3 separate regions of the Homo sapiens genome follow, and regions 1 and 2 are each linked to region 3. Evidence: fine-mapped expression QTL. A gene starts in region 3. Each other region holds a variant in brackets. All regions are shown on one strand. Distances are between the middles of the regions. Region 1 overlaps NRIP3-DT (NRIP3 divergent transcript). Region 2 has its middle 50 kb from the start of DENND2B. Region 3 holds the start of TMEM9B (TMEM9 domain family member B).

Region 1 (2,763 bases), 49 kb before region 3:
CACACACTGTCAATGCAGCGGTGTGTGTGTGATGCCTGATCATGCTATAAAACTGTGGACAGTGTAGCACATTGGAACCCCAATGTTACTTCCAGGTGACTTGGCTTGAAGAAGTCAGCTTTTAGCAGCCACATCAGGTACCTAAACTGGAGTTTTAAGTAATGCAGGTGCCAAGTATAAGAGGTTTGATAGGGCCAGGCACGGTGGCTCATGCCTGTAGTCCCAGCACTTTGGGATGTCAAGGCGGGTGGATCATTTGAGGTCAGGAGTTCAAGACCAGGCTGGCCAACATGGTGAAACCCTGTATCTACTAGAAATACAAAAATTAGCCGGGCGGTAGTGGCGCATGCCTGTAATCCCAGCTACTCGAGAGGCTGAGGCAGGAGAATTGCTTGAGCCTGGGAAGCAGAGGTTGCGGTGAGCCGAGATCGTGCCACTGCACTCCAGCCTTGGCAACAGAGTGAGATGCTGTCTCAAAAACAAAAAACAAAACAATTTAAAAAAAGAGGCTTGATAAACCATCACTAAGGCTCCCCATGAGGAACTGGGATGACTCAAACAGCATCACTCACCCAGTACCCCCCGGGCCCAGTATTCCTAATGTACTTCTCTGAAAATGCATTATCTACATTTATCACACTGATAGGTGCCTTCTCTAAGATTTATGATTCATAATGCTCATATTCTCCAAGACTCCCATTATGTCCTTTACGGTACCTGGATTTGTATCCCAGTTCTGCCACTTATTAGCTATGTGACCTTGTGGAAGTTATTTAACTTCTCTGTGCCTCAGTTTCTTCATGTGGTAAATAAAGATAATGATAGTACCTACAAGATAGAGCTGTTTTGAGAATTAAATGAGTTAATACCTGGAAAACTCTTGAAACATTGCCTGGCATGTAGTAAGGGCCCAATAAACGTTAACTGTCATCCTCATCGTTACATTTCACTTCTTGAGACTTTAGAAGTTAAACCCAAGAAACATTCTTTAAAGGGGTTCACTCTCTGCTGGGTTTCCCCATTTCACTGAGATGGAAAGTTCTTTAGTCACAGTTTTTCTAGTGGGGTATGTCCTAGCAACAGAAAAATTAAAGCTTGAAGTAGGAATGAAAGGCTATGATGCCTGATTTGGGTTCTCACACAAGGCCTTCCAAACACCCGTGTCCTCCTGAGCTGGGAAGGTAAAATGAGCTCTTCCAATCGCCTGAGCTTCTCTTAGGTCAGGGACGGCACAGACACAAGTGCACATACACAGCGCAGCCTCTCAATCCTTCATTTTTTCTGAGTTCCAATCCTCAGCCCCTGGTATGTGAGGATCACAGTACATCTCCTTGCTGAGCCCAGAAGCACATGTTTTCCAGAACTGCCTATTTCTATTCGATGTTTCCAGCATGGCAACATCCAACTTCAGAGTCCAAGAAGGCAGTACTCAGGTCTCTAGGCAGGCAAGGTCAATGAAGACACTCACTGTGGCAAGGTGTGAATAATTTGCATGAAACCTGTGGTCATTGAAACAAAGCCCCTTTTTGAGA[C/T]ATGAGGACACAGGCCTGGCCAAGGTGGGTCTGACCACTGTGCAGCATGTGCCAGGGAGAGTACAGAACTCAAAGTGCAATGTGCTAACGGAGTGTAGACAGACTGAAAAGAGTGAATTTCATTTTTTTAAACATCATGAATGAGATAGGAAAAAAGCCAGTAATTATACAGCAGAGAAATCAGGCAATACCTTGACCAGATGATCAAAATTAGCATGTCCAATAAAGGACAGATGGATATCATGTGCCTACAGATGTGATAGCCTGAGAAGAACGTACCATCACCTATACTGTACTCAAGCCAAAAATGCATCACCTCAATCTCAATACAAGGAAAATGCAGACAAACACAAAATGAAGAATGCTCTATTTTAAAAAGGGGAGGGAAGTTGAAAAACAACTTGCACATCAGTGAAATTTTAAAGCTTGTGTGCTTCAAAAGACACTATTAAGAAGTGAAAAGGTAGCCCATGGAATGGTAGAAAATGTTTGTAAATCATATATCTGACAAGAGACTAATAGCTACAATATGTAAAGAGTTCTTACAAGTCAATAATAATGAGACAAATCACTCAATTAAAAATGGACAGAGGAGGCTGGGCATGTTGGCTCACACCTGTAATCCCAGCACTTTGGGAGGCCGAGGCAGGTGGATCATGAGATCAGGAGACTGAGACCATCCTGGCTAATACAGTGAAACCCTGTCTCTACTAAAAATACAAAAAATTAGCCAGGCGTGGTGGTGGGCACCTGTGGTCCCAGCTACTCGGGAGGTTGAGGCAGGAGAATGCCGTGAACCCAGGGGGCGGAGCTTGCAGTGAGCCGAGGTCACGCCACTGCACTCCAGCCTAGGCGACAGAGCGAGACTCTGTCTCAAAAAAAAAAAAAAAAAAAAAGAAGATGGACAGAGGATTTTAATAGACATGTTTCCAAAGAAGACAAACAAATGACCAATAAGCACCTGAAAAGATGCTTAACATCATTAGTCATCAGGGAAACACAAATCAGAACCATAATGAGATACCATCTCAACCTCACTAGCATGGCTATAATAAAAAAGACAGATGGTAAAAAGTGTTGAAGAGGATGTGAAGAAATTGGAACCCTCATACACTGCTGGTGGAGATGCAGAATGGTGCAGCTGCTTTGGAGAGTAGTCTGTTAATTCCTCAAAAGTCACACGGGCTACCATGTGACCCAGCAATTCTACTCCAGGAGATGAATAAAAGGC
Region 2 (2,763 bases), 100 kb after region 3:
AGTGCAATTGCTGGATTGAATGGTAGATCTATTTTTAGTTATTTGAGAAATCTCCATACTGTTTTCCATAGAGGTTGTACTAATTTATATTCCCACCAGCAGTGTATAAGCATTTGCTTTTCACCACATCCATGTCAAGATCTATTGTTTTTTGACTTTTTAGTAATGGCTAGTCTGGCTGGAGTAAGGTAGAGTATTTCATTGTGGTTTTAATTTGCATCTCCCTGATGATTTGTTATGTTGAGCATTTTTTTCATATATTTCGTGGCTATTTGTATATCTTCTTTTCAGAAATGTTTATTCATATCATTTGCTCGGTTTTTGATGGGAGTGTTTTTTTCTTGCTGAATTATTTGAGTTCCTTGCAGATTCTAGGTATTTGTTGTTTGTCAGATGCATAATTTGCAAATATTTTCTCCCATTCTGCGGGTTGTCTGTTTAATGGTTATTTCTTTTGCTGTGCAGAAGCCTTTTAGTTTAATTAGTTCCCATTTATTTATTTATTTTTGTTGTTACATTCGCTTTTGGGGTCTTAGTCATAAATTCTTTGTCTCACCCAATGTCCAGAAGAGTTTTTCCTAAGTTTTCTTTTAGAATTTTTATGGTTTCATGTCTTAGATCTAAATCTTTGATCCATCTCGAGTTAATTTTTGTATATGGTGAGTGATAGGGATCCAGTTTCATTCTTCTGCGTGTGGCTAGCCAGTTTTCCCAGCACCATTTATTGAATAGGGTATCTTTTCCCAGTTTATGTTTTTGTTTGCTTTGTTGAAGGTTAGTTGGTTGTAAGTATTTGGCTTATTTCTGGGTTCTCTATTCTGTTTCACTGGTCTGTGTATCTACATTTATACCAGTACCATTGCTGTTTTGTTACTATAGCCTTGCAGTATAAGTCAGGTAACGTGATGTCTACAGATTTCTTCTTTTTGCTCAGGATTGCTTTGGCTATTTGGGCTCCTTTTTGGTTCCATATGAATTTTAGAATTGTTTTTTCTAATATTTTCGAAAATGATGTTAGTATTTGGATAGGAATTGCATTGAATCTGTAGATTGCTTTGGGTAGTATGCTCATTTTCATGATATTGATTCTTTGATTTCATGAGCATGGGGTGTATTTCTATTTGTTTGTGTCACCTGTGGTTTCTTTCAGCAGCGTTTTGTAGTTCTCCTTGTAGTGCTCTTTCACCTTCTTAGTTAAGTATATTACTAGGTATTTTATTTGTTTTTGAAGGTATTAAAAAGGATTGAGTTATTGATTTGATTCTCATCTTGGTGGTTGTTGGTATATAGCAGTGCTACTGATTTGTGTACGTTGATTTTGTAACCTGAGACTTTACTGAATT[T/CATTT]ATCAAATCTAGGAGTCTTTTGGAGGATCTAGGCATCTTTTAGGGTTTTCTAAGTGTACAATCATATCATTAGCAAACAGAGATAGTTTGACTTCCTGTTTTCCAATTTGGATGCCCTTTATTTCTTTCTCTTGCTTGATTGTTCTGGCTAGGACTTCCTAAGGTCATTTTATAAATATTCATAGTAACTAGTTGAAGGCACTGAGATTCCTGTACCTTGGCGGGAAGAACCCTGCTGGATGATTCTCTAGGTGTTTATTTGGGTTATGCCCATTTTCTTTCCCTCTTTTCTTCCTAAGTTTTGATGCTCCTGTTTTTCTGGGAATATTTTGGCTTCATTGTTTAGGCTTTTTTAAGGGCCATGGGGAATTCTGGGGACAGGGGCAGGTGTGACATGTTGCTAGGTATGGGAGGTTTTTACAGCTTGAGAAATTTCCAGGAAAGAAGAGACAGAAAACTTTGTTCACAAAGCATGTGGACAGGAAGTCAGGTGGGAAAATGGCATGGCAGATGGTGTAACTTCTTTGGTCAGCATGCCTGTCTCTGCCAAGATGGGACTGATAGGGTAGTGGGGGTAGTGGGGCAGTGCTGAGGATATAACTTATAATTCACATTATTCCTTGAAGAGAAGATGGTTCTTTGTTTTAAAAGGAAGTATAGTGCCTTACATTGATTTCTTTGAAATATACATGATATAATCCATGAATGAGTATTTGCAAAACACGTGGCCGGGCGCGGTGGCTCACGCCTGTAATCCCAGCACTTTGGGAGGCCGAGGCGGGTGGATCACGAGGTCAGGAGATTGAGACCATCCTGGCTAACATGGTGAAACCCCGTCTCTACTAAAAAATACAAAAAATTAGCCGGGCGCGATGGCGGGCGCCTGTAGTCCCAGCTACTCGGGAGGCTGAGGCAGGAGAATGGCGTGAACCCGGGAGGCGGAGCTTGCAGTGAGCCGAGATCGCGCCACTGCACTCCAGCCTGGGCGAGAGAGGGAGACTCTGTCTCAAAAAAACAAACAAACAAACAAACAAACAAAAAAACACGTTAGTGTTTATCTAACCCTATGCCAAGCCTGGTAGTAGATATACAATACAACTGAGGGAAAGTGATAACCTGAACTTAGAACATATAATTGTTACCTAAAGAATGATATAAAGCAGTACATCATCAAGCTCTAAATTTTGAGTTATTGATACATACAGGGGGTTTGGAGCCCCAGACAAGGTTTAGGACGTGCAGGCTTATGGCAAATCTTGGGCCAAATGGAGGCCTTTGGAGCTTTTGGAGCGCCCAAGGGCTCAGTCTTCAGCCTGTTTCTTGTCTCTGTCTTCACTTTTCTTAGGTGATTCCCTGGCTTTGAAGTACTAGCATTTATGGAATGTTTACTGGCTGCCAGAGGCTGTTGTAAGGGTTTTAT
Region 3 (2,763 bases):
TGTTGGGGCCGGGCGCGGTGGCTCACGCCTATAATCCCAGCAATTTGGGAGGCCGAGGCGGGCGGATCACAAGGTCAGGAGATCGAGACCATCCTGGCTAACACAGTGAGACCCTGTCTGTACTAAAAATACAAAAAAAAAAAAAGAAAAAGAAAAAGAAAAAAAAAATTAGCCGGGCGGCGTGGTGGCGGGCGCCTGTAGTCCCACCTACTAGGGAGGCTGAGGCAGGAGAATGGCGTCAACCCGGGAGGCGGAGGTTGCAGTGAGCCGAGATCGCGCCACTGCACTCCAGCCCGGGGGACAGAACGAGACTCCGTCTCAAAAAAAACAAAAAAATCTGTTTACAGAGGTAAAAACACGGGTATTACATGGAGCATAATTTGAAATCCATTCCCTCATATTCAGCCAAGAACTACAGGCCCAGAGAAGGGAAGTGATTTGCCAAAGGTCATTCAACAAATCCCTAGGGGCTGTGATGATCCGTGTCCTTGCCATTACCTCCCTTGTCTCCACTAACAAAAATATTTCAATGGGAGAATGTGCCGATCTAAGGCACTCCTAAAGTACTTGCTGAGAATGACAGCCCTGGGGAGACAGGTCGGCAGCCCTGAACAGGCACTGCCTTACCCGGGCGTAGTGCCCCAATTCGCCACCTCTTGGAGTCCTAGGCGGAGGATACTACTGGGGCAGTTGTTTCGCCAATTCCACATCTCCCGGAGCCTGGCCTGGCCCAGCCCAGCCCCGTCGCTGTGACCCACTTCCTAGCTGCAGGCTGGACCAAGGGGAGGCACATGGGGAGCTCCACAGGGAGGCCACGCCCACGAGGGCAGCTCACAGAATTAGAAAGCCGACGGGGTGCTGTGGTCAGGAGGCGCGTGGGCGGCAGGTTAGTACTTAAGGTGCAGAGACCACCCCCAACCCTTTGACTGGCGGTGGGCATCCCGGAAAGGCATGGCTCGGCCAATTCCAGCCCCGTTTCCACGCTCAGCACCCGCCCTGCCTGTGCGCGAACGGCTCCGGCCCGCACGGGTCGCCAGAGGCGACTGTGTGACACTCGGAGTTTGCTGGGGTCTCCGTGGGCGGGAGGACTTTCCAGCGCAATGGCGACTCCCTAAGCCCCGCAGCTTCTGCGCCCGGGAAAGATATCCAAGAGATGCAAAGCTCTACTGGGCCCAGGCTGCCACCCCAGAGGCCCCCTTCCGTCCCGGGGCCGGGGCTAGGCCAAGGCGGGCACCAGGACTGCCCAGCCTCCCGGCCCTTCGCACTGGTAACCGGTTCCGGGGCGGATGCTTTTTGCATCTGACCCGGCGCGCCCGGTGACGCCTTCGCGTCCAGACGGAAGTGCGGGCGGAGGATCCCCAGCCGGGTCCCAAGCCTGTGCCTGAGCCTGAGCCTGAGCCTGAGCCCGAGCCGGGAGCCGGTCGCGGGGGCTCCGGGCTGTGGGACCGCTGGGCCCCCAGCGATGGCGACCCTGTGGGGAGGCCTTCTTCGGCTTGGCTCCTTGCTCAGCCTGTCGTGCCTGGCGCTTTCCGTGCTGCTGCTGGCGCAGCTGTCAGACGCCGCCAAGGTGAGTCCCGCCCAGCCTCGCTCCTGACGGAAGCTCCTCCCCTACCACCGGCCTTGCGGAAACTGGGTCTGCCAACCTGCTCCTTGGCCCATTCCTGACAGCCATACGCCTGGCCTCACAGCTCCGGCAGACCCCCGCCGCCACCAGCCCCGCCCCTCCCGACTGCCCGGCGGCACTCTCGCCCTCAGCCCCGACAGCCTGGCAGGCAGCGCCCCACGGTCGTCCCCAGCCCCGACAGTGCCCACAGTCCGGACAGCAGCCCCCCACCGCCTTAACATTTCCCTTCCCAGCCCCGGCTGCACGCATCTTACACTTGACAACCTTTTCACCTCCGAGAGCCTTTAACTTTCCACCCTAAGCTCTTGACAGCCCACCTGCGCCCTCCGCCAGCCTCACAGGCCCCGCATGCCCCAAGCCAGAATGATAGGAAGCCCCCATCTGACAGAGCCTTCCCTGTCAAGGGCCGACTCAGCTCAGCTCACCCCTGAACACTTCCCTTCCTGTGGTGGGAACTTGCCCCTCCTGGCCTACTTCCCTCCCAATAGGGCCTACGGAGCATCTCTCACCTGCTTCATATTCTCACCTAACTCCCTCCACGAGTCCCTTGGTGCCTTTCTTGCTTTCTCTCTTCCTGATAATTTAGTGGGTAAGGGAAGAACCAAACTGCAAGAGAGGTGAGGTTGTGGCCTCCCTGGTTCGATTTCTTGACCTTCTAGTTCCCTCATACTGTTCTCTGGTGCCCCAGCTCTCCAGACCTGCCCTAGCTCCATGCATACCTGTGCTTCCTCTTTGATGAGCTAGCTCATCATTGGGGGAGAACAGAAGGGATTCACATTAGTATGATGGGAAAACAGAATGACATTGCGTTTTTAAAAATAAGAGCTTTAATTTATAATATCTTTAAATGTAGGAGTGGGGAAAGGTTACAGGCAGGCAAATGTTTTTGATTCAGAGATTCTTTTTGAAACCATCTCTACCTCCTACCAGAAACAGGGACAGCAGCACGTCTCCTGACTTTGAAAACATTGCTGGCACCCTCTGCATATCTTGCCTCATAACTTTATGTATTGTGATCATGTATTTATTTTTCAGTCTCCTTTACTAGGGTGTGTCCTGGTTATGGGCAGAAACCATGTCTTATGCTTATCTGAATCCACCTTATTGAGCACAAGATCTAACACAGAGCAAATGCTCAC

What was found. PIP is the estimated chance that this variant, and not a neighbour inherited with it, causes the effect.
Region 1: its variant is fine-mapped to the expression of TMEM9B in blood mononuclear cells (TOPMed, PIP 0.96).
Region 2: its variant is fine-mapped to the expression of TMEM9B in esophagus mucosa (GTEx, PIP 0.97).

The regions. Positions count from the first base shown.
Region 1 is chr11:9,012,183-9,014,945 of GRCh38, reverse strand. All of the region lies in intron 1 of NRIP3-DT (NRIP3 divergent transcript), which reads right to left. Among named protein-coding and RNA genes, the nearest start is that of NRIP3-DT, 9.5 kb to the right of the region's middle. The variant C/T (reference allele first, on the strand shown) is at 1,533.
Region 2 is chr11:8,858,914-8,861,676 of GRCh38, reverse strand. It overlaps a transcript of DENND2B not described here. Among named protein-coding and RNA genes, the nearest start is that of DENND2B, 50 kb to the right of the region's middle. The variant T/CATTT (reference allele first, on the strand shown) is at 1,344.
Region 3 is chr11:8,963,013-8,965,775 of GRCh38, reverse strand. TMEM9B (TMEM9 domain family member B) reads left to right here and starts at 1,334. Exons shown (of 5, transcript NM_020644.3): 1 at 1,334-1,567. The coding sequence starts at 1,463. TMEM9B-AS1 (TMEM9B antisense RNA 1) reads right to left here and starts at 1,101. Exons shown (of 5, transcript NR_073431.1): 1 at 628-1,101. RefSeq lists silencers at 1,141-1,640, 1,681-1,870.